Homo sapiens: one gene and its partners. The protein of the gene in region 1 interacts with the protein of each later gene in a biochemical or structural test. Each region holds a gene or a part of one and is shown on either strand. Other genes may lie near its edges.

Region 1 (3,500 bases):
AAATTTAAGTGTTTAGAAAAAAAAAAAATCATTCACATCGTCTCTTGCAAGTTTATGCTTATCTGAACCTTTCCTGTAAGGTTTTTGTTTTAACACAACCCTGACCACTACGAATCATTCAGTACAATACGAGAGCTTACCAACACAAGGGGTTTAGGAACTAATAATATTCTCCAAAAAACACAGAGGCCTCTAACAAAAGAACATACAATATGAAGCTGTTCATATTCTTGCTGGGCATCTTTGAGCACTGCTGATCACTGTTAGAAATAACTCCTGTATCCTAATGCTCTAATAAATGACTCGACCATAAATACACATGGGGTTTCATGCCATTCTTACCTGTGTAAGTGCAGAACACTCCACATACTTGACAGCCTTCAGGTCACGGGCCAGCTTTTCAGCAGTCTCTGGAGTGATAGGCTTCTGTTTGTTCTTGGCAAGTTTCTCAATAGTAGAGGGGTCATCTCTGAGATCAATTTGAGTCCCAACAAGCAAGAAAGGAGTCTTTGGACAGTGGTGAGTTATCTCAGGCACCCACTAAAAAAAGGTATTTTAAAATACACCTTTGTTAATCAACAAGCCTCTAATGCTATTTATAACAGGTCAGTAGAAATTCTGAGATGATCTTCTTAGGGCAAGAGTATCTGATCAGCTTACCTTTTCTTTCACGTTTTCAAATGAAGATGGAGAGACCACTGAAAAACAGACTAGAAATACATCTGTTTGTGGATAACTCAGCGGTCGTAATCTGTCATAATCCTCTTGCCCTAGAAAAAAGAAAAATATTGGAGAGAATTCAGCAACTGAATCTTGGTGTCCTCAAAGTGTTAAAAGCATGCTGGTCATTACTCAAAAAGCAACTTACTTATCTAATAAAATGTATGGCTTTGTAATATAATATGTGGGCAATATTCTCAATCAGCTAATTCTACAAACTTCAAGCACTCAGAACAGCAATGAATTTACTATTATGTTATTTGCTTTTATTACCAGTTTGTGGTGTTCAATCTTTGTGTCCATTAGAAACCCAATAATAAATGTAATAATAAACTCTTGCTACAGAAATGGTTAAAAATCAATCCTTGTAATCCCAGCACTTTGGGAGGCCGAGACAGGCGGATCACCTGAGGTCAGGAGTTCAAGACCAGCCTGGCCAACATGATGAAGCCTCATCTCTACTAAAAATATAAAAATTAGCCGGGTGTGGTGGTGCACATCTGTAATCCCAGCTACTTGGAAGGCTGAGGCAGAAGAATCACGTGAACCCAGAAGGCGGAGGTTGCAGTGAGCCGAGATGGCATCACTGTACTCCAGTCTGGGTGACAGAGTGAGACTCCATCTCAGATATGGTAAAGAAACAATCACAGTGAAATCATCTAAGGAAAGAAAAACCTCACTGAAACCCAGATGACAAAATCCACTGCCCATCATGACTACAAACAGAGGTTCACATATTTAGTTAATGCGTGTATATAAGACCGGTATCTGAAACTGATAAAGCCTAGAAAACAAATTTAGCAAGAATTAATCGATACTCAAAATAATAAAAATACTTAGAATTAACTTAATCAGAGGCAAAAGACTTGGATAACAAAAAAATTCAAAACTGCTGAAAGAAATTAAAGAAGACATAAATAAATGGAAACACATCCCACATTCATGAACTGGAAGACTTAATATTGTTGACATGTCAACATTATCCAAAGCAACCTACAGACTCAATGCAATCCCTATCAAAATCCCAACAAGGGATAGTAATCTTGAAACAAGGGACAATAGACAAAATAATCTTGAAAAAGAATAAAGCTGAAGCACTCCCATTTCCTGATTTCAAAACTTACTACAAGGCTACAATAATCAAAACAGTGCGGTATTGGCATAGGGAGATATATAAGACAATGGAATAGACTAGAGAACCCAGAAATAAACCCTTACATATGTGGGCAAATGATTTTTCTTTTTTTTTTTTTTTTTTAGACAGAGTCTCACTCTATCACCCAGGCTGGAGTGCAGTGGCACAATCTCGGCTCACTGCAACCTCCACCTCCCCAGTTCAAGAGACTCTCCTGCCTCCACCTTCTGAGTAGCTGGGACTATAGGCACACACCACCGCACCAGGCTAATTTTTGTATTTTTAGTAGACACAGGGTTTCACCATGTTGGCCAGGCTGGTCTTAAACTTCTGACCTCAGGTGATCTGCCCACCTCAGCCTCCCAAAGTGCTAAGATTACAGGTGTGAGCCACCGTGCCTAGCCTAGCTCAAATAATTTTTGATAAGGGTGCCAAGACCATTCAGTGGTAAAAGGACTCTTCAATAAATGGTGCTGAGAAAATGACATATTCACAAGCAAAAGACAAAGATGAAACCTTACCTAATACTATATACTAAAATTAACTCAAAATGGATAAAAGGTCTAAATGTTAGACCTAAAACTTTAAAACTCCCAGAAAACATAGGGCAAAAGATTCAGGTGGACTTGGCAATAATTTGTTTGGATATCACACCAAACCACCAAAAAATAGACAAACTTCATGAAGCTGTGAAAATTTTATACATCAGAAAATAGTATCAACAGAATAAAAACGCAACCCACAAAATAGGAAAAAATATATGCAAATCGTGTATGTGATAAGAGATTAATACCCGGAATCTACAAAGAACTCCTAAAACTTACCCCAAAAAAAAAATCCCAATTCAAAAATGGGCAAAGAACTTGATTAAACAGACCTTTCTCCAAAGATATATAAATGGCCATAAGATGCTCAACATCACTAATCATTAAGGAAATACAAATCAAAACCACAATTAGATACCACCTCACACTAATTAGGATGGCTACAATTAAAAAAAAAAAAAAAAAAAAAAAAACAGGAAATAAGTGTCGAACAGAAGAATGTGACTATATCAAACCCCACGTACTGTTGGTAGGAATATAAAATGGGACAGCCACTGTGGAAAACAATACGGAGGTTCCTCAAAAAAATTAAAAACATGATCCAACAATTCCACTTCTGGGTATATACCCCAAAAGAACTGAAAGCAGGGTGTCAACAAGGTATCTGTATACCCATGTTGATAGCAACATTATTCAAAATAGCTAAAACGTGGAAGCAATTCATAGCACCAGTATTAAAACTGGAACCCAAACATCCATCAACTTGTTAATGGATAAACAAAACTGTGATATATTCATAGAACAGAATAACACTCGGCAATCAAAAGAAACAACTACCAATACACACAACATGGACAACTCTCACAAACATTATGCTATGTAAAAATAGTCACACAAAAGACTACATATTGTATGGTTCCATTTATATGAAACCCTAGAAAAGCAAAACAGTAGAAACAAAGAAAGCAGATCAGTGGTTGCCTGGAACCAGGTCAAGGGACAGGGCTGACTGCAAAGGGAACCCAGAAATAAACACTCACATATATGGTCAAATAATTTTTGATAAGGGTGCCAACACCATTCAGTGGTAAAAGAACTCA
Region 2 (3,500 bases), on another chromosome or scaffold:
ATGCTTGATCAGATACCTCACAAAAAGATATCCAAATGGCCAATGAATATGCAAAAAGCCTCTTGATTGCAGTAATCATCATCAGGGAGATGCAAATTAAAGCCACTACACACCCACCAAAGTTGCTAAGATGAAAAACTCTCCCTCACTACAAGTGGGAGTATAGAAAACCACTTTGGAAACCAATTTGACAGTATTTTCTAAAATGGAACATATGTATATCCTCTGGCCCAACTCCTACATATACACACAACAGATAACCTATAAACATTTGCCAAAGACACATTAGAATGATGTGGCAGCATTGTTTGTAATAGCCCCAAATTAGAAACCACTCAAATGTGTATCAACAGTAGACTAGATGTTGTGGAGCACTGAACAGAACACTCTGTAACAGTAAGAACTCTCCACAGCTATATAAAATAGTATGAATGGGTCTCCCAAACATAAAGTTGAGCAAAAGAAGCCACACCCAAGAGTACATTCTTTGTGATTCCATTTATATAAAGTATAAAAACAGGCAAAACCAATCTATGCAGCTATAAGTCAGAATAGTAGTTACTCTTGGAGAAAGGAGGGGTAGTTTCTGGAAGGACACACAAGGGAAATGTCAGGGTATTATTAACATGCTGTTTCTTGATCTAGGTGCTAGTTATATTTAAAATTTCACTACACTGAATCATGATATCACAAGTACGGTCATCCCTTGGTATCCATGGGGGATTGCTTCCAGGACCTCCCTAGGATACTAAAATTTGCAGATGTTCCAGTCCCTGATATAAAATGGTATAACATTTGCATATAACCTAAATCATTGCATACTTTAAATCATCTCTATATTACTTATTAATACCTAATACATTGTAAATGCTATGTAAATAGTTGTTACACAGTACTAAACGTTTAGGGAATAATGACAAGAAAAATAAGTCTGTGCATGTTCAGTATGGACAAAATTTTTTTCGAATACTTTAGTTTGGATGCACAGATGGAGAATCTATGACTACAGAGGGCCAGCTGTATACATATATGCACTTTTCTGTAAGTTTATTCTTCAATAAAAAGTTTCAGGTCCAAAATAAGTAAACAAGTTACCTTGTGAAGGGGAGTGAAATTTAGGTAATTTGTCATTTTTTAGCTGAGTGAATCCACATAAAATGCTTATTAGAACAGTGTCTGGCAGGTAAGCACTCCATAAACACTAGCTTTGTATGTAAAGGCTTTCTATTTTCCAAGTTTTCTTTATTAAGCATTATCAACTTTTTTTTTTTTCCTTTTTTTCCCCTAGAGACAGGGTCTCACTGTGTCACCTAGGCTGGCCTGAAACTCCTGGCCTCTGGTGATCCTCTTACCTCAGCCTCCTAAGCAGCTGGTACTACAGGCTCATGCCACCACACTTGGCTGACTTTTATTTTTTTAAGACAAACAAATCATTTAATATTCATTTTTAGGAAGAAAAGTTCATATAATTTCTCATTTCTAGGCACCAACAGAATAAAACTGTAAATGGAATGAAAAATACATCATCTGGACTAAGGGAGAACCGTTTCCATCAGTTACATATTTTAATTCAAACTAACGGTTTAAGCAACACCCAGTAAAGAACAAGAGTAACAACAACAAAAGGCTAGGGCTTGAAGCTTAGATTCTAGAAGGAGGAGACAATAAATAATATACAATACACACAATGGCAGTAGGGGATATAAGGAAAAATAAAACAGGATAAAAAGGATTGGGTAGGTGTTATTTTATGGAAGGTGGTCAAAAAAGGCCACACTGAGAAGGTGAAATTTATGTCAAGGCCTGCAAGAAGTGAGGGACAAGTCAAGTGAATATCTAAGCGAATACTATAAACAAATACAGCAGCAAATGCAAAGGTCTTGAGAAACACACTTGATGCATTAGAGGAATAGTTAGGAATCCAGAGAGCAACTAATACAAAACCACAGAACCACAGATGCTCCACACTATGTGCAGGGCCTTGCAGGCCATTATACTTTGGCTTTTACTTTGAGTAAGATAGGTAGTCTTTGAAAGAATCTGAGCAGAGTTTGACCTCACTTAATGTTTTAAAAGGATCCCCCTAGTTACAGTTTTGAGAATAGAACATAGTGGGTAGTAAGGATGTAAATATGGAGACCAGGCAGCAGGAGGCTACTGTAGGAAGTCAGGCGAAAGATGATGGTGCCCTGGACCTGGGTAGTAGCCATAGAAGTAGTGAGAAGCAGTCAGCCTCTGAAGATAGATAGTGCAAAAGCAGATAAAGCAGAATTTGGTGATCGATTCTAATGTAAGCATGAAAGAAAATAGAAGAATAAAGGAAGACTGCATGGCATTTGGCTTAAGTAACTAGAAGGACAGAGATGCCATTTACTTACAGAGAGCAGACTAGGATGCATAGCAGGAGTTGATTTTGGACAGGTTAAGTTAATGATTCCTTTTGGACACAAGTAGAAATATCAAGGAGGCAGCTGGATATCTTCAGTTTACAGCTGAGGGGAAGGCTATACTAGAGATATAAATGTGGGGGTCACGGGCCTACAGAAGATATTGAAATCTATGAGACTGGGTAGGATTCTGAATATAACCACAGGATGAGAGACTGAGTGCTGGGCATTCCAAGCCTACTGCTGATGGCAGCTGCTTAACTATCCATGGTATTTGCTTTGACCACTCTGATTACAACATCAGTCAAAAGGTCATAAACACTGCTGTCTAAAAGGAAACTTGAGAGGGATAAATACTGAAAGAGGATGCTTCCCACCACCAGCAGACATTCATTGTCTTCTCTACTGCCACAGCCTCTAATCCTCCCCTCTACCTCCACCCAGTCATGTCCACCAACTGCAAGTCTCCAGCTGCAAAATGAGAAATCAGGGAGAAAATGCAAAAGGAAGACTTAAAAGACTGAGACTTTTCTGAACATGGTATCACTTGGTCTATGCATGCCTGGCATGGTAATTATACACATCTGCTTATCTCCTGTGCTAGCTCACAGGAATTTTGACAACTAGTTGTTCACAAGTACTTAACATACATTTGCTAAATGACATACAAAAAAATTCAAGATTCTAGTTAGGGCCGGGCATGGTATCTCACACCTGTAATCCCAGCACTTTGGGAGACTGAGGTGGGTGGATCACTTGGGTCTAGGAGTTCAAGACCAGCCTGGGTAACATGGCGAAACCCCATCTCTACAAAAAGTACAAAAATTAGCAGGGCATATTGGTGCACACTAGCTGCTGGGGAGGCTGTGGTGGGAGGATCATCTGAGCTCAGGGAAGCTGAGGCTGCAGTAGGCCATGATTGTGCCACTGTCCTCCAGCCTGGGTGACAGCAAAAATCTTTCTCAGAGAAAAAAAAAGATTCTAGTTAGGGGTGAACCACCAATGGGGTAATCTCACCATCAGATGCCTGGTTTGGGCCTGGTTTAGCAACTGTCTCAACTCCTTCAGGAGACAGCTGGTGATGCAAGGACTCTCCAGGAACCCAATATGTGA
Region 3 (2,650 bases), on another chromosome or scaffold:
AGGGTTTTGGGGAGAAATAAATAATATATGTAAAAGCAGCCAGCCGTGGTGGCTCACGCCTGTAATCCCAGCACTTTGGAAGGCCGAGGCAGGCAGATCACCTGAGGTTGTGAGTTTGAGACCAGCCTGACCAACATGGAGAAACCCCGTCTCTACTAAAAATACAAAAAATTAGCCAGGCATGGTGGCACATGCCTGTAATCCCAGCTACTCGGGAGGCTGAGGCAGAGGAATTGCTTGAACCTGGGCAGCAGAGGTTACAGCGAGCGAGATCATGCCATTGCACTCCAGCCTGGGCAACAAGAGCAAAACTCCATCTCAAAAAAAAAAATTTATATATATATATACATATATATATATATATGGAGCATTAACTAGGGCTGGGTGCGGTGGCTCACGCCTGTAATCCCAGCACTTTGGGAGGCCGAGGTGGGCGGATCACAAGGTCAGGAGATCGATACCATCCTGGCTAACACGGTGAAACCCCGTCTCTACTAAAAATACAAAAAATTAGCCGGGCGTGCTGGCGGGCACCTACAGTCCCAGCTACTCAGGAGGCTAAGGCAGGAGAATGGCGTGAGCCCGGGAGGCAGAGCTTGCAGTGAGCCGAGATTGTGCCACTGCACTCCAGCCTGGGCAACAGAGCAAGACTCCGTCTCAAAAATAAATAAATAAATAAAGCATTAACTATAGTATCTGGCACATAGCACTCAAATGCTAGCTACTATTACAATAAGCTTAGGCTTAGAGAACTTAGGTAACCCACCTAGTAACACAAGGCAGAGTTAGAATTAAAACTCAGATCTGACTCCAAAGCAATTAGGTGCTTTTTCCCACCATCCTGAATACTCCATAACTGACACAGACAACTCCTGATCATCCCTTCTATCCGGAAAAAGTCCACAGCTCAAAGCACCATGTCATCGGATAGTTTCAATTTCCTCTCATCAAAAACAGAAAAGATAACATTGTCAAGAGTTATTTATGAGAACCAGAAACAGATTTTAACTTATTTTTCCCCTTTCTCTCAGGATGTTATTCTCTTCTAACAGAAGTCCAAATAAGCCAAAAGGTAAAAAGGGGTAGGAGAATAAACAAAAGGGTCTGTATAAGTATGCCTGGATTAGCCATAGTCATATCTAAAAGTCATGAAAAAGGAGAATCCAGAAACCAAAACAAATTTTAAAATAGCTCAAAGCATATACCCAATAGTTAATTCCCAGAAACTGACAAGGCTGAAACACCCAGCTCTTCCAGAATTTCTTAATAAGCCTCATACATAGCTGTCTGCCTGGTTTCTCACCCATGACTCATTGAAACATCATAGATAATACAAGATGACCTGATAAAAACGGAACTGATGCCTTGACTGGAAACTTCAGATTAGTAAATTCCCAGCAAGCTCCAACCCTTCCCTACCACCCACCCTCCATCAAGGATACTTAGGAAGAAAGCAAGATGCTAGTCCCACCACAATGATCCAGATGTGGTTCCTATAGCCAACAGGCTCTAAAAGAATGTATCTTTACAAATTCACAACCAGATTTTTTGAAAAGAAAGATCAAATTCCTAAAAACAATGCTCCTCAATTGTCCTGCCACCTTTTATAAAGAAGAGGAAATAATCTTTAATGTACTATTTTCCCTACAGCATATACTCAAGTACTCAGCTGGAAGTCAAAAGGCCATCTCTGCCTAAAGACATGCTTTGTTTTGTTGGCACAGTGATGAAAATAATTTTAATTAGTTGCAAACAGCCAAAATCCGTGAGATTTTGGATACAAATCTAAATTCTTTTAAGGAATTTAGAAATTCTGATGACCCCAGGACTCCGTTTCCCTAGATATAACAATTGGTTACAGCTTGGCAATGGGACTTCCTCCAGCAGCGTATGAGCTCTTTAAGATGCCTAATGTGGCCGGGCGCGGTGGCTCACGCCTGTAATCCCAGCACTTTGGGAGGCCGAGGCGGGCGGATCACGAGGTCAGGAGATCAAGACCATCCTGGCTAACACGGTGAAACCCTGTCTCTACTAAAAATACAAAAAATTAGCCAGGCGTGATGGCAGGCGCCTGTAGTCCCAGCTACTCGGGAGGCTGAGGCTGAGGCAGGAACCTGGGAGGCGGAGCTTGCAGTGAGCCGAGATTGCGCCACTGCACTCCAGCCTGGGCAACAGAGCAAGACTCTGTCTCGGAAAAAAAAAAGATGCCTAATGTTCCCTAACATCTAACACACACACCACTTCTCACGTTCGTATCATCTGACCCTTGTAGGCACATGATTCTTGACCTAGATTTGGAGGAACAAGATAACAAGAGATCCAGTCCCTAATTTCCAGTTTCCAGAACCTTTACAAATACTCACCAATTGCTAAAGCCAACTGATCCTTGAGTGAGCCTTCTCTGTCAGGCCCAGCTGGAAGTCCAGAAAGCTCAGAGGAATTCAAGAAACCCTAAGTGCACGAAGAAAACAAACATGAACTGATTCTGTACTATTCAAATTATCAAAAGAATAGGCAAAAATAGTCTATCTCTAAGAAAAGTATTGGCCAGGCGTGGTGGCTCACGCCTGTAATCCCAACACTTTGGGAAGCCAAGGTGGGTGGATCACCTGAGGTCAGGAGTTTGAGACCAGCCTGGCAAACATGGTGA
Region 4 (3,500 bases), about 220 Mb from region 1:
ATTTCTTATATGGATTTTTCTACTCACTACACCATATCGGGGGCAAGAATCTGTATATTCTGATGACTTTTAATTTTTCAGTTCATCTTCTGTGTTGTTACCACGCCACTTATGTATGTGGGTGATTCATTTTAAACTGTGCCCCAAAGTCATTTTCTCTAGATATGACAGGGGAAGTTCTTGTGTTTTGTTGTTGGTTTGCTTTTTAAAAAGATGTGTTTACCCTTTTTAGGTGGTACTACACGAATCTGCAGTCACTGAGAAGACAAATAACAATGGGGTGATGGGAGGCAGTAGGAGGGAGAGGATGCCATCCTGTAAATATGTATTTTTTAACCCATGAATAATCTGCAAAGTTGTTAAGTCAAGTTGGGATTTTGAGAGATCAGACATTTCTTGCCTCCCTAGCCCACACTGAGATAAGTTTTCTTTTTACATTTTTATACAGTGGCCTGATGACTGAGGCTTCCTGGAAATTATTTCTGGGGAAAAATTTCATTCATGGATGGTATTTCAACTTTCCCATTAAGTTGATCAAACAAATGGTGGTCTTAAAGAAAAAGAATATTTTTTCCTTCTTATCTCTCTTCTTTTTCCCTCCTTCCCTCCTGCTGGCCTTCCTCCCTCCCCTTCTTCCTTTCTATTTATGCTTGCTGTGATGTAAGTTCAGTTTGATGGCTGTTTTATTGTTCTTTTGCTTAATTTTAGAGACTCCAGTACTTCACTTATTTGGGAAAAAATTGAAGAGCCATCCATAGATTGTCATGAATTTGAGGAATTATTTTCTAAAACTGCTGTAAAGGAGAGAAAGAAACCTATCTCTGATACTATCTCAAAGACGAAGGCTAAACAAGTGAGTATTTTTGTGCTTTATGAAATTGGACAGTGTTTCTGGCATAAGTGTGAACTGTCATTAGAGAAAACTTTGAAATAGTTTTTGGGCTGTGTAAACCTCCATGGATCTTAGGCAGACAGCAAGGGTTAGAACTTTAGAACATGTGGTTAAGTAAGACTAGCCCAAATAGAACAACACATAATTATCTCCATCCAGTGATAATGTCCCAACTTTTATTTGTAACATCATAATACATATTTCCAAAATATCCGCCATTGTTTCTTTCCAGAATTAGTTGCCTAGAAATAAATTTTCATTTGATTTATGTCCATCTGAGTGCTCCTATGGATGGAAAGAAAGGAAAGAGTGGGCAAAGGAAAACAATCAAGAAATCCAATCCTTAGTAACTGATAATGTGTTTGGTATTTTGTTGCATTATATCTGAAGTGGATGCCATTAGAATCCAGTTAAACAGTCACACTGTACTTGAAATGTGGAAGAGAAATCTTGTATCCATTTCTAACCTCTCTATTTTATGTTAGATCCTTTGATCTAACCTGTGACATTTTTGAGTCATAAAAAGAAAGATTGGTGCATTTCAAGAAAAACATTTCCAAGCAATTTTTTTCTACTGATATATCCATTGGACTTGTCATAAAGGGATATTGTTATAAATTTCTCAGGGGTGTCATTTGGAAAGTAGAGTAAAACCTCATGATAATGAACTCCAGATAGAAAGAATTGCTAATGGTGCCCGTCTTTACCCTGAAATGGAGAGTGGCTACATTTCTTAACTTTTGCAGGGTGGCAGGAAAGAGGTCTTGGAAGCAAAGGAATGGCAAGCAGCTCAGTCTTGGGAAGCAAAGAGGGAAAAATGAGGCTGATATCCCCAGTGTTCTCCTTGCCCAGTAGCCCCATAGGAGTTCCAGCTAATGGGGTGATTCCTCGAATTTGTGCCTCTGACCTGGAAGTAATAGCTAGGCACATGACCTGGAGTTGTTTCCATTGATATTTATTTCAGAGCAGACAATTTTCATTAGATGGACATTGCCAAATCCAGCCAGGAGAAGATGGATTTCAATGGGACAGCTAGACCCCTGTGACCCGTAGTTGGCTGGGTGAGCAGGCTCACCCCAGGCATTTTATTAATCTGAGAATAATGTAAACCCAAACATTATGCAGTTGAATTCTTTTAGAAATGCTTGTTGCATTATCACTGGTTGCTGGTGACCTCAGGTCAGTAACATAGTAAATGAGATGGCACCTGGCACATTGTAGGCACTCAATAAATATTTATTAAATTAATCAGCTGACTAAGGGATGAAGACTTTATAAATATCAGTGGCTATGTCCAGTAGTGATTAAAAACCAGAAGGTTACTCATTTCATAATAATCAGTAAGTCCAGGGTGACAATGTTAAAAGGAGTAATGGAAAATCATATTTTCTCTGGCAGAGATAAATATTTAAAAAATCCTTGGTATATTTGCATATAGTACACTGAGGCTGAATCATCGTATCTCCTCTTTTGGGTTGTGTCAGAGATGTAAAATCTGTCTGGGCGAGGAATATGGGTGGGGCTTACATTGAGAAGAGTCAGGCAGCCGGAACTGTCACATGACAAACGTGTAGATGTGGCATGGAGCCTCTCTCGTCCAGGGACCAAATACTCAGAAAATTGAGCCATGCTCTCCTTACTTCCAGCACCCCTTTTGTTTTTTTGTGTTTTTTTGTTTGTTTGTTTTTGTTTGTTTGTTTTTTTGGCTAAGGGAATACAGATAAGGAAGAAGTCTCCCAGGTTGCCCAAGACTGTAGGATTTCATTCTCTGTTTGACATAGTATTAAGTTTTAGCTTACTGAAATATGATTTACATGTAAATCATCAAACTTCACATTAAACTAGTTGGCATGAAGGGGTCTCAGCATATAAACAGTGCCTCTGTGTTGAGCATCATCATCTTAAGATAATCTCCTCATTCTGTCATTAAGGCATTTCATAAATTGTCGGTAAGAGACTTTGCCAATATCCTCATTTGTGTTTATTGATAGTGACGCTACTGTTGACCTTCAGCTTCAAACAGGGTTTATGGGACAGTCTCCATCATGACTCCAGATAAACCTATTCAGCAACTCCTTGGCCTGGGTCTTGGTGCTGAGCTCTGCACTTCAGATCTGTTTTTGGAGGGACAAAAGATTTTTTTAAATGTATGTTAGAGAAAAATCACTACAAAGTGATGGATTGCTGAAGAAACATAGTTTTATTTAACTTCATTGTATTTGGAAGAAAAATCTGTCCATTCCATTTACTTGAGACATTTAAAATTTTGTTTAAGGAAAGTGTATTTTCAGGATGCATGCAAATTGTTCCCCTTTTTATGGGAAATGTGCACTGATTGTATGTGCAGACATTTTGGTACCTTATGATTCATTTCCAGTAAAATTAATAGCCTTTAATGCCGTGGCATATGTTTATGGAGGTATTTCAAGCAATTCTTCTTATATACAATGGAAGCTGGAAGTTCTGTTTTTGTTTAAATATTTAAAAATAGCCAAATAATTTTTCTGTGATCTCTGTTCTCCTTGAAAGTAAGACTGTGGTTGAATGCACTGGTGTTTAACGAGGTGCCTGTGCTGTTTTTACCGTCATGGCAGAGACGTTTTCAGTG
Region 5 (4,008 bases), on another chromosome or scaffold:
TCTTTCACATATCTGAGCAAAAGAAACTTCTTCAAGGTTTTATCACATTGGTTCCAAATGCAGCTCACAGCTTACTATTTTAACAAATTACACAAAAGAAGAAAATTGAATAATAGACTAGTTAAACTAGGTTTCCATGTTAAGGTAAAAACATCATTGACATCTTTATCAGGTACACATTGAAACAATCTAAAATTACCTACTAGTCAACAAATAATGCTTCTATTATATAATAAAGAGCAGAAAGCATGCAGACCTCTATCAAAACTGGACACAATTAATTTCAAAGGGAAAGATTTTGAAATTGTTAAGAAATATCTGATGAATTTTGGAGCTAAAAAAATTGAAAACACATTATATTTAGAAAATGCCATGAGCTGATTATAGGATGCCACCAAAGTTACTTTGGAAATAATTATATACAGAAAAATAGAAACTGAATTAATGAAGATCTATCTCAAGTTGCAAAATGAACTATACATGAGATGAAAGGGAATTAGTAAGAAAAAAAGCAAATCAATTACAAAAAGCAACAACACTTTTTTTGTTTGTTCTTTGTTTTTTTTTCAGACGCAGTCTTGCTCTGTCACCGGATCTCGGCTCTTGGCTCACTGCAACCTCCGCCTCCCGGGTTTACACAATGCTTTGCCTCAGCCTCCTGAGTAGCTGGGATTACAGATGCGTGTCACCATACCTGGCTAAGTTTTGTATTTTTAGTAGAGATGGGGTTTCACCATCTTTGCCAGGCTGGTCTTGAACTACTGACCTTGTGATTCACCCACCTCGGCCTCCCAAAGTGCTGGGATTACAGGCATGAGCCACCATGCCCAGCCTCAACACTTTTAATGTTCCTTTTGAGCAACGTTGTCCAATCCGCAGCCCAGGAAGGCTTTGAATGCAGCCCAACACAAATTCCTAAACTTCCTTAAAACATTTTGAGATTTTCTTGCAACTTTTTTTTTTTTTTTTTTTTTTTTTTTTAGCTCATCAGCTATTGTTAGTGTTAGTGTACTTTATGTGTGGCCCAAGACAATTCTTCTTCCAATGTGGCCCAGGGAAGCCAAAAGATTGGACACCCCTGCTTTAGAGAGACACTATGTAGTGACAGTCTTTCACTTTCTGCCCAGCTTTACTCTCCCACTCCCCCTTCCCCTCCCCCTGCCCCAACGCCAGGGAAGGGGAAGAGGATGACCTGTGGAATTAATGAGTCAAGTCACTTCCCTCTGCCTTAACAGGGATTGCAAGTGGAAGCTAACTTCTGATGCCATAATTATAAAATGCACCAGCCTTAATAGACAGGAGCTTTGCAATTCTCATCATCTGTGCATTTTAAACTTATAAAGACAGAAATCAACAGGTCAAAAGGTAGTCATCACATCCAGTCAGTTCACAACTCACCTGGACCTGGGGTCCCCCTCTTTCCTCATTATGGTGTGTTTCCCTCCCTCGTTCCGTACATCGCTCTCATTCTCACCTTCTTTCTCTAGCTCTTTCCTTCCCCTTTATTTTCTCCCTAGGATTCTGCTCATTTTGAGCCCCTCTCCTCTCCTGCTGCTCCTCCCCGTCTTCCCTCTATTCTTTCTCTTCCACTTGCTCTTTCCATTCTTGCAATGTATTTAATTCCTCTTTCTTCCTAATCTTTTCATTGTCCCAGTCTCCACATATTTCTGGCTCTTTCTTCCCCATTTCAGCACTCCCTGTTAAATTCCCTCTTCCCTGTTACACACCGTTGTCCCCACTCTTTGGCACCCCCAGATCCCAGGCCTCCCCGTGCTGTGGTTCTCCCTCTGCTTCTCCTTGTCATCGGCTGCCCCCTCTTGCTGTCCCGGTACCACACTGCCCTGTCTGCCCTGGCTCCAAATCCCTTCTGCTCTCCCCCACTCTCTGTCTGAGGAGCCTCCTCCTTTGCTGCCCCTCTCCCTACCTGGCTGTCCTTCATCTCTCTGGATACTGTGCTTTTTCTCGAAATGTGTCTAGTTACTTTTCTCTCCCTGCTACTTTCTCGGCTTCTTCTTCCACTCTTACTGTCTCTGAAAATCTCTAACCATCCTCTACTTTGCCATCTGTTTATTGGTTTGCCTCATTCCTTCCTGTCTCAGGTTTTCTACTGCTCTCTCTGTCCCTCGATCCCTTTGGCCCACACATTCACAGGACGGTTTGGGGTAAGACGCCTGCATCCTGGAGGAGCGCATTTTCCACGGGGTGGAGGAGGGCAGGCAAGAACATCGGGTGTCACAGGACAGGCCCTGAGCACCTCCCCAGCGCGGGCTCAGGGGAGGCCTGGGGAGCAGCGGGGCCCGGCACGAGGAGGAGGGAGGTGGGGCGCGACAGCGCCTTCAGACAGGGGTGGGGTCTGCAGGATCCCAGGACCAGGCAGAGGACGCAAGGCTCCCCGGGACTGCGGCTGCAGCTGCGGCGCTGCGCTCCAGGGGCCGACGAGGGCAAGGCTGGGAGGCACCCAGGACGGGAATACACCTCTTGGGTGAAGACTTTAAAAAGCCCGGGGATGGGGGAGGGGGTCAGGAAAAGGTTTTAAGCGGGAGGAAGAAGCAAAAGGCCGGGGACGGGGAGCAGCCTCAAAGCGACTTCAACCCAAAGGGAAGCGACTCCGGACCCACACTGCGAGGCCTGTATTCACCTGGGGTGGAGTGTACGGGGATTTTAAGGGCCGTATCGACCCTGGACATCGGCTGTGGAAATGGGAAACAGGGAGCGCAGGTTTAATCTACACAGAGGGTCACTCACGCTCGACGCCGTCACCTTCACCCAACGCGATCCGTTTCCGGGCCTGTAGGAAACTGCGCATGCGCGGAGAGAAGAGCCCGGGCAGCCTGAAGGAATGGCTGGAGTGGGCGGGGTCTGCGCCGCTTTAAGGTAAAAAAATCAGAGTTGTGTGGGCCACTTATGGTGGAAACCAAAATGTTTTCCACTTACCAAGTTGAAAACGGTTTATGTTAAAACTATTTTGCCTGCAGGTTGGACCCGATCCTGCTAGGGAGTCTCCTGCAGCTTAGCAGTCCGGGAACTGGGATTTCGGTGGGGAATCCAAAACTAGCAGTGATTGGATCCATAAAAGTTACCAAAAAACAAAAATGAAGTGTCTGGAATCACTCCACTGGATTTCAAGACTACCAATATAGGAAAGGTAATAAAAACTGTGTGGTTTTGGGGCAATAAAAGACATATGGATTGATGCAATACAGTAAGAGAGTACAAAAATAGCCTCTACAGGTACTTCCAACTGATTTTTGACAAAGTTACCAAGGGAATTGAATGAAGAATTTTTAAAAACTGGTGAGGGGCTAACTTAATATCCACAGCAGGAAAGAAGTCATCTCTACTCAAACTTCACAACCGTACAGACATTAGTTCAACATTGACCATAGCCTAAATGTAAAATATCAAACCATAAAATGGTATCCTGTAGGAGACTGAAAGAAAAAATTACTCACAATAAAATCGTAAGAATCAAGAGCTTGTTCAAAAATTCTTAGCCATAGCAGCAAAAGCATGATTCATTAAAGAAAAAAAAAATCAACTGGTATTTACCAAATTAAAAACTTTTGGTCTGTGAAAGACCTTCAGACGATGAAAGAAAAGGTATTTGATATGGTTTGGCTCAGTGTCCCCATCAAATCTCATTTTCAAGTATAAACCTCAGGTGTTGAGGGAGGGACCTGGTGGGAGGTGACTGGATCATGGGGGTGGTTTTCCCCAAGCCGTTCTCATGATAGTGAGCTCTCAGGAGATCTCATGGTTTAAAAATCTGTGATAGTTCCTCCTTTGATCGCTCTCTCTCCTGCTGCAAGCAAGACGTGCCTTGCTTCGCCTTTGCCTTCCTCTATGATTGTAAGTTTCCTGAGGGCTCCCTAGCCATGCGGAACTGTGAGTCAATTAAACCTCTTTTGTTTATAAATTACCCAGTCTCAGGTTGTCACAGGAGGGTTTAGGCAGTGTGAAAATGGACTAATACAGTACTGAATAATAGAAAATATTTGCCTACCATAT
Region 6 (3,500 bases), on another chromosome or scaffold:
CTCCCAAAGTGCTGAGATTACAGGTGTGAGCCACCGCGACCCACCCACAACCTTCTTTTGATCATTTTTCTTTTGAGTTGTTTTGGGGATCTACCTATTCCAGGTACTGCACTTTGATGGTTATATTTGTTGCAAATATATTATTCCTGCTTGTGTGTTGCCTTACATGAAAAATTGTAAAGTCACAGGCCTGCTTATAGCTATTAGAGTCTGAGCTCCTTGAAAGAGCAAGAGATGGATATCCTGATTTGCTCATTTTCTGAGAAGTGCCTTGACTGTCTTACTACTTAGAAAATGCTTGTTAACATTGATGAGAAGTCAATAAAATAAAAACTGTTGGCTGGGCGCTGTGGCTCACGCCTGTAATCCCAGCAGTTTGGGAGGCCGAGACAGGCGGATCACGAGGTCAGGAAATCGAGACCATCCTGGCTAACACGGTGAAACCCCGTCTCTACTAAAAATACAATTAGCCGGGCGTGGCGGCGAGCGCCTGTAATCCCAGCTACTCTGGAGGCTGAGGCAGGAGAATGGCGTGAACCTGGGAGGCGGAGCTTGCAGTGAGCCGAGATCGCGCCACTGCACTCCAGCCTGGGCGACAGAGCGAAACTCTGTCTCAAAAAAACAAACAAACAAAAACTGTCAGAGCGGCGATCAGTAAACATTGATAAGACTAATGGCAAGGTAAGTTACAAAGAAAATGCCTGTTAGAGCTGAATATGCTCACTTCCCTCCCAATCATGTTAAATCCATGGGTTAAAGAGGTAGGAATTTGTTGAGGCAGCCTCAGAGCTTCCTTTTCCTTTTTCCAAGCTATCCCAAGCAAGTCAATCACTTCCAGCGCATTGAAATCATCACCAGACACCTATTCCACTGAGTCTTAGTTTTAAGAGTCCAAAACCCTAGGACCAAGTTTGGAAATCCCCTGGTTTGGCATATTGGGCCCTGAAAGTTACACTTCGCTGAATTTAGCCCAAGAGGCACTTGCCTTGCTAGATGTGGTCAATAATAAAAGCAGGAAGAGAGCTTAAGGTTTAAATGTGCCTTTCTAGTTATTTTAGTTATTTCTAGTTATTCAGATGGTGCAAAAAAGTTGCAGATGCCGGCTGGGCGCGGTGGCTCACGCCTGTAATCCCAGCACTTTGGGAGGCCAAGGCAGGTGGGTCATGAGGTTAGGACATCGAGACCATCCTGGCTAACATGGTGTCTCTACTAAAACAAAAAATACAAAAAATTAGCCGGGCGTGGTGGCACGCGCCTGTAATCCCAGCTATTCGGAGGCTGAGGAAGGAGAATCGCTTGAACCCGGGAGGCAGAAGTTGCTGTAAGCCGAGATGGCGCCACTGCACTCCAGCCTGGGTGACAGAGCAAGACTCCATCTCCCCCGCCCCCACCCCCACCCTGCCAAAAAAGTTGCAGATGCCTTCTCTCCCAGCTCCACCCACTGTTCATGGTAGGGTATGAAGTAGCAGCGCACATTATCAGGAGCAACTGTGGGGGTAAGCGTCCTTTCTCTGGCAATTCGCTCTATGCCCTTGTACGCTGTTGTTTGTATTTCTCACTGTTTGTAAGTCTCACTGTCGCCCAGGCTGGAGTACAGTGGTGTGATCACGGCTCACTGCAACCTCCACCTCCCTGGCTCAAATGATCTTCCCACCTCAGCTTCCTAAGTAGCTGGGACTACAGGCACACACCACTACGCTCAGCTAATTTTTTTTTTTTTTTTTTTTTTGGTAGAAACGGGGTTTCTCCATGTTAGCCAGGCTGGTCTCAAACTCCTGGGCTCAAGCAAGCTGCCTGCCTCGGCTTCCCAAAGTGCTGGGATTACAGGTGTGAGCCACCACGCCCAGCCACTCTCTGTGTTTTTAAATTATTCCAGCTTCACCACTTAATGACTACACACTTGGGTAACTTGCTTCTCTCCTGTGCCTCAGTTTTCTCATCTGTAACATGGGGCTACTCATGGTATTGACCTCATAGGGTGTGTCTCAGTCTATTTTGTGCTGCCATACATAATACTTGGGACTAGGTAGTTAATAAAAAAGAGAAATTGATTTCTCACAGTTCTGGAAGCTGGGAAGTCGAAGATCAAGGTGCTGGCAGGTTTGGCTGTCTGGTGAGAGCTGCATTTGGAGGAATGCTGCGTCCTTACATAGACGGTGGGAGGTAGAAGGTGGAAGGGCAGGTGAGCCCCGTGCTGGGCGAAGCCTCTTTTATGAGGGCCTTAATCCCACTCATGAGGAAGGAGACCCCCTCGCCTAATCACCTATCACAGGCCCCATCTGTTAATCCTCTCACATTGGCAGCACCTGAATTTTGGAGGGGGACACGTTTAAAACATAGCAGGTTGTCCTGACAAAGGAAGAAAGTGCAGGCCGGGCGTGGTTGCTCACACCTATAATCCCAACATTGTAGGAGGCTGAGGCAGGCAAAATTGCCCCAGCCTGGGCAACACGGCTCCAAATTTGACCAGCCTGGGCAACATGGCAAATCCCTGTCTCTACAAAAAAAAAAAAAAAATTAGGTGTGGTGGTGCACACCTGTAGTATCAGCTACTCAGGAGGCTGAGGTGGGAGGATAGCTTGAGCCTGAGAGGTCAAGGCTGCAGTGACCTGAGATCATGCCACTGCATTCCAGCCTGGGCAACAGATCGAGACCCTGTCTCAGAAAGAGAAAAAGAAAAAAAAGGAATGCAAAGCACTTAGGGCAGTGCCTAGCACTAAGGATCCACTAAATACTGTTCTTGCAAATTGAAGCATGCTGCCTCTGACAACCTTGTTAATATAAAAGAGGCCCATTTCCCTTCTACCTGTACCTCTTTGCCATTTCTTATAAAGGAAGCTGAGCTGTTAATAGTTCAATGTGATTGGCCTGGCACGGTGGCTCACACCTGTAATCCTAGCTACTGGGGATGCTGAGGCAGGAGAATCGCTTGAACCTGAGAGGCGGAGGTTGCAGTGAGCCAAGTTCATGCCACTGCACTCCAGCCTGGGCAACAGAGTGAGACTGTCAAAAAAAAAAAAAAGTTTAATGTGATCACTGCACATTTTTCCCCCTCATACCAAGGTGCTGCAAGTCTACATACAAATATATGTCATTTCTTTTTTTCTTTTTTTTTTGTATTTTCTTTTTTCTTCCTTCCCTTCCCTCTCTCCCTTCCTCTCACTTCTTTCATTTTAAATAAAAATGGGTTCATATTCACTTGCTTTTTTATCAGTTAATAATATAGCATGGATATCTTTTTGAGTCACTACATATAGTTAATTCATTTTAATTTTTTTAATTTTTAAAATTTGTTTATTTGAGACAGGGTCTCCCTCTGTCACCCAGGCTGGAGTGCAGTGCGGCGATCACGGATCACTGCAGCCTCAACCTCCTGGGTTCAAGTGATCCTTCCATCTCTCAGCCTCCTGAGTAGTTGGGACTACAGGCATACACCACCATGCCCAGCTAATTTTTGTACGTTTTGTAGAGAAGGGATTTCGCTTTTGTCATGTTGCCCA
Region 7 (3,500 bases), on another chromosome or scaffold:
TTTGCTGACCCTTCATCCAGACTTACAGCACAGTTATCATGTTCAAGGAGTTAAAAGTCATGGGAGGTAGTAAAGTGGAGGAGATAGAGAAGATATTAAACAAATAATATGTTAATAATATAAAATTTTGATAAGGCTTTTAAGGAAAGTGAGAAAAACCTGGGGGCTATGAGAGTCTAATCTAATCTTAAAGGGCATGAGATAACTAGAGGCCTGGCATAGAACACTTACATGGGAATATCAGCAGAATTAAATAAAAGGTATTTCATTATCTGTAAGCTATTACAGCTTTAAATTCCACTGACATTTTGAACTTTATATTGTGAAGCAATGACTCCTTGTTACTCTAAGTGTGCCATTCTTTTGCTATATATTGTTCATAGAGTACTGAGAGGGACGATCTAGAAAACATCAGCGGTGATGTCTGCCACAAGACTGAGTCTAGGAGTGAATAATGGAAGCTTCCTGGATGTGGTGAACCTCAACTTTCTACCTTGTGTCAGTCAGGAGTAAACTTGGTGGGACATTCCCCAGAAATGGTGTGTCTTCAGAGGACTGAATTGAGTTGCTTGCGTAGAAGTATCTTCCCATCTAAGAAAATCTCTAATTTCAAAATACATTATGCAAGAGTCGAGGGGGTTGTAGAAATCCAGCTCAAGAGCCTACTGCTTCACTGGATGCAGTGAGTCATAGACCTGCTGTTTAACAGAGGGTAGTTAATCAGAGATCCTGAAACTCAATGTTAACATACCCCATCTTCTTAAGTGGAATACTGTACTTTTGTCTTACATGTCTTCTTAGAAAGATAGTTACTTTTTTTGTGCCTGAATTATTAGATTCACCACATGCTAGCCCTACTCTATCTACTGAACCATATTTCGCACTCTTCTTCAAGTAAATCCTTAATCCTTCAGAGGGTGTCATCATTCTCCCTGACTTTACTAACCCAAATATCACTCTAATTCCTTTGTCCAGTCTGTGCTGCAGGATAGAAACATCCTGACTGGTCTCCAGTTATTCAGATATGGCTCGTATATGAGGAACAATTATATTCAGTGTATTTTTAATACTTGAATGTATTTTCTTCATGAGAAACAGGCAGTTAAAGTATGATTTTGAAAAGGCAAAGGTATAGTAATATATAAAAATCAAATAACATGTATTTGAGCTTTTATTTAACAATTGAAAAAATCAGTAATATATTACAATTATTTCAAAGGAGACGCTGAAGATGAGACACATGTAGGCAATCAGGCATGCTGATATGAAGTTGGTAATAGATTTGAAACTGGTTAATATCTATAGAGCAATAAAATACAATGTTTGGAATCATAAGAGTGGAAAACTATAGCATTTCTACTAGAAAAAAAATCATTTGTATATCTATGCACCAGTATAATTTGCATTGTTTTTAGATTTTTCCAACTTACAGAGTTGTAAAATTGTAAAGACAATAAAAGGCATAGACCCCTGTGGAATTAGATGACCCTGGAACGTCCACCAGAGCCAATCCAGCAATGGTACTGGGTGTCTATTGCAAGGACACCCAGTACCATTTTGTATATTGCAAAACGTTTTATAGTTTGTCCTACCAAGGCAGCCTGGTTTCTCTCAGTAATGAGCTCTGAAGTACAATTGGCCCCTCAGTCAGCACACATGGTAGATAACTTTAGGGGAAGCCAGGATCAGGATCAACTCTTACAAGGTGTGGGGAGATGAGCCATTAGGTAACATGGATCCAGAAGAGACATGAAGGTGGAGAGGGGGAGACTCGGGGGCTGAAAGTAGGTTTGTGTACCAAAGGCACAACAGACTATATTTTCATTTATTGCATTTCTTGTAAAATTTATTTTTCTTTGAAAGAAAGCTACTGTGTTTTTTATTTGTTATTTATTTATTTATTATGGCCTGAAAGAAATTCAGTTTTTGTGTTGAAATCAGTGCTAAAGGAGATTGAAAAACATTTTGTGTCAACCAAACCTGTGGTAGATTAAGCTGAAAATCCAAGGAAATAATTGCAACAAAACCTTTGATTCTTGACATGACGAAATTGTGAAGCCTAAGCTGGGATAGATGTACTACATGGACCAGAATTACCCACTCGAAGTGTATTTATGGACTATCTACCACATGCCTGGTAGTGCGCTAGGGACGGGGATATGACCTTGAAAAAGAGAAGGTTTTTGCCCTCATGGAACTTAATACAAATTACAACTAAATAATAAGCTTATATAATTGAGTATGTCTTTTTTTAAATTGTATTTTATTTTTTAAATTGACAAATAATAATTATACATAATTATGGGGTACCTAGTGATGTTTCAATACGTACAATTTATAGTGATCAGATCAGGGCAACTAGCATATTCATCTCTAACATTTATGATTTCTTTGTGTTGGGAACATTCAACATCTTCCTTCTAGCCATTTGAAACTATAGAGTATGTTATTGTTAGCTATAGTCATCCTGCAGTGGTATAGAAAAACAAAGTGCTGTGATAGCACCTAGAAGCAACAGCAAGGTCAGGATCAGGAAACCTTTGTGAAAGAGAGAAAGCTGAAAGAATGATGTGTGAGGGATGAGGAAGAGCGGGGAGGTGAAGAGGATACTGGCAAATATGTATTTTAAGACTTGGATCCCAGAGAGCACATGGCAGACTCAGGTAATTCTACTAAGCATTTCAGCTAAACAGAAATCTATCTGGAGATGGGAAAATAACCAGAGATAAGGCTAGAAAGCAGGAGTTAGGTCAGAGAGGGCCTGGAGCCATGCAGAGAACTTGCATTTTATGTTATGGGTAGTCAGTAGGCAAGGAAGAGTGTTAAGTCCTTGAGAAACATCACCAGACTTACATTTTTGAGAGATAACTGATTGCAGTCTGGATCCGGGACAGAGGTAGGGAAAGAGGAAGACAAGACTGACAGTAGGGCGGTCCGTGAGAAGGCTTGTGCAGTAATCCAGGGGGTGCACACATTTATCATGGTTTCACGTTTGGTGTTGCTGTCATCTGGACGTCTTCATTTTGGAGAATTCCTCATATTCTGAGGCTCAGTGAGAAACTGAACTCACTTGTAATGGGATGTGAAATCTCCAAGTATTTTCTTTCCCAGCCGCTTGGAGACTGGGCACAAGTCTTGGCACTTGGCCTAGACAGCGATTAGATGTGTCCTTCTTGGACTCTGAAGTGAGAGCTGGTGATTCAGGGAAGCAGTGGGTCCAGGGTCCATAAGATAGATGATAGAAAGGAAAGAACTTGGTAATTGATTAAAGGCAGAGGTGATGCAGAGGCAGGGTTACAGGTTTCTCACCTCAACAACCAGATGACTGGTACCATTAACTTACATGCTACAAGTGGAGGAACAAGTTTTTTTATTTTATTTTATTTTATTTTTTAAGCTTGATTTTGATTTGAGCCTTTTGCAGTTGAGGGACCTTTGGTAACTCTGGTGTTGATGTCTAGGAGATTTGAGATGCTGATCTAGAGCCCAGGAGAAGGGAG

The links.
Region 2: the proteins of CDC42 (region 1) and ZNF622 form a complex in vitro, tested with the Homo sapiens proteins (one large-scale study listed by BioGRID).
Region 3: the proteins of CDC42 (region 1) and TSFM form a complex in vitro, tested with the Homo sapiens proteins (one large-scale study listed by BioGRID).
Region 4: the proteins of CDC42 (region 1) and FMN2 form a complex in vitro, tested with the Homo sapiens proteins (one study listed by BioGRID).
Region 5: the proteins of CDC42 (region 1) and ZNF415 form a complex in vitro, tested with the Homo sapiens proteins (one large-scale study listed by BioGRID).
Region 6: the proteins of CDC42 (region 1) and NQO1 form a complex in vitro, tested with the Homo sapiens proteins (one large-scale study listed by BioGRID).
Region 7: the proteins of CDC42 (region 1) and PALLD form a complex in vitro, tested with the Homo sapiens proteins (one large-scale study listed by BioGRID).

The regions. Positions count from the first base shown.
Region 1 is NC_000001.11:22,083,709-22,087,208, reverse strand, and holds part of CDC42 (cell division control protein 42 homolog isoform 1 precursor), read right to left. Parts: intron 771-3,500; coding exon 661-770; intron 541-660; coding exon 343-540; intron 1-342. UniProt on the Homo sapiens protein: Plasma membrane-associated small GTPase which cycles between an active GTP-bound and an inactive GDP-bound state. In active state binds to a variety of effector proteins to regulate cellular responses. Involved in epithelial cell polarization processes.
Region 2 is NC_000005.10:16,459,301-16,462,800, forward strand, and holds part of ZNF622 (cytoplasmic 60S subunit biogenesis factor ZNF622), read right to left. Parts: intron 1-3,500. UniProt on the Homo sapiens protein: Pre-60S-associated cytoplasmic factor involved in the cytoplasmic maturation of the 60S subunit.
Region 3 is NC_000012.12:57,792,787-57,795,436, reverse strand, and holds part of TSFM (elongation factor Ts, mitochondrial isoform 2 precursor), read right to left. Parts: intron 2,452-2,650; coding exon 2,364-2,451; intron 1-2,363. UniProt on the Homo sapiens protein: Associates with the EF-Tu.GDP complex and induces the exchange of GDP to GTP. It remains bound to the aminoacyl-tRNA.EF-Tu.GTP complex up to the GTP hydrolysis stage on the ribosome.
Region 4 is NC_000001.11:240,210,383-240,213,882, forward strand, and holds part of FMN2 (formin-2), read left to right. Parts: intron 1-708; coding exon 709-853; intron 854-3,500. UniProt on the Homo sapiens protein: Actin-binding protein that is involved in actin cytoskeleton assembly and reorganization. Acts as an actin nucleation factor and promotes assembly of actin filaments together with SPIRE1 and SPIRE2.
Region 5 is NC_000019.10:53,130,111-53,134,118, forward strand, and holds the start of ZNF415 (zinc finger protein 415), read right to left. Parts: upstream 2,801-4,008; 5' UTR 2,746-2,800; exon of another isoform or gene 2,688-2,745; coding exon of another isoform or gene 2,639-2,687; intron 1-2,638. UniProt on the Homo sapiens protein: Involved in transcriptional regulation. Transcriptional activity differed among the various isoforms. All isoforms except isoform 3 seem to suppresses the transcriptional activities of AP-1 and p53/TP53.
Region 6 is NC_000016.10:69,720,061-69,723,560, reverse strand, and holds part of NQO1 (NAD(P)H dehydrogenase [quinone] 1), read left to right. Parts: intron 1-3,500. UniProt on the Homo sapiens protein: Flavin-containing quinone reductase that catalyzes two-electron reduction of quinones to hydroquinones using either NADH or NADPH as electron donors.
Region 7 is NC_000004.12:168,507,052-168,510,551, reverse strand, and holds part of PALLD (palladin), read right to left. Parts: intron 3,193-3,500; exon of another isoform or gene 2,976-3,192; coding exon of another isoform or gene 2,854-2,975; intron 1-2,853. UniProt on the Homo sapiens protein: Cytoskeletal protein required for organization of normal actin cytoskeleton. Roles in establishing cell morphology, motility, cell adhesion and cell-extracellular matrix interactions in a variety of cell types.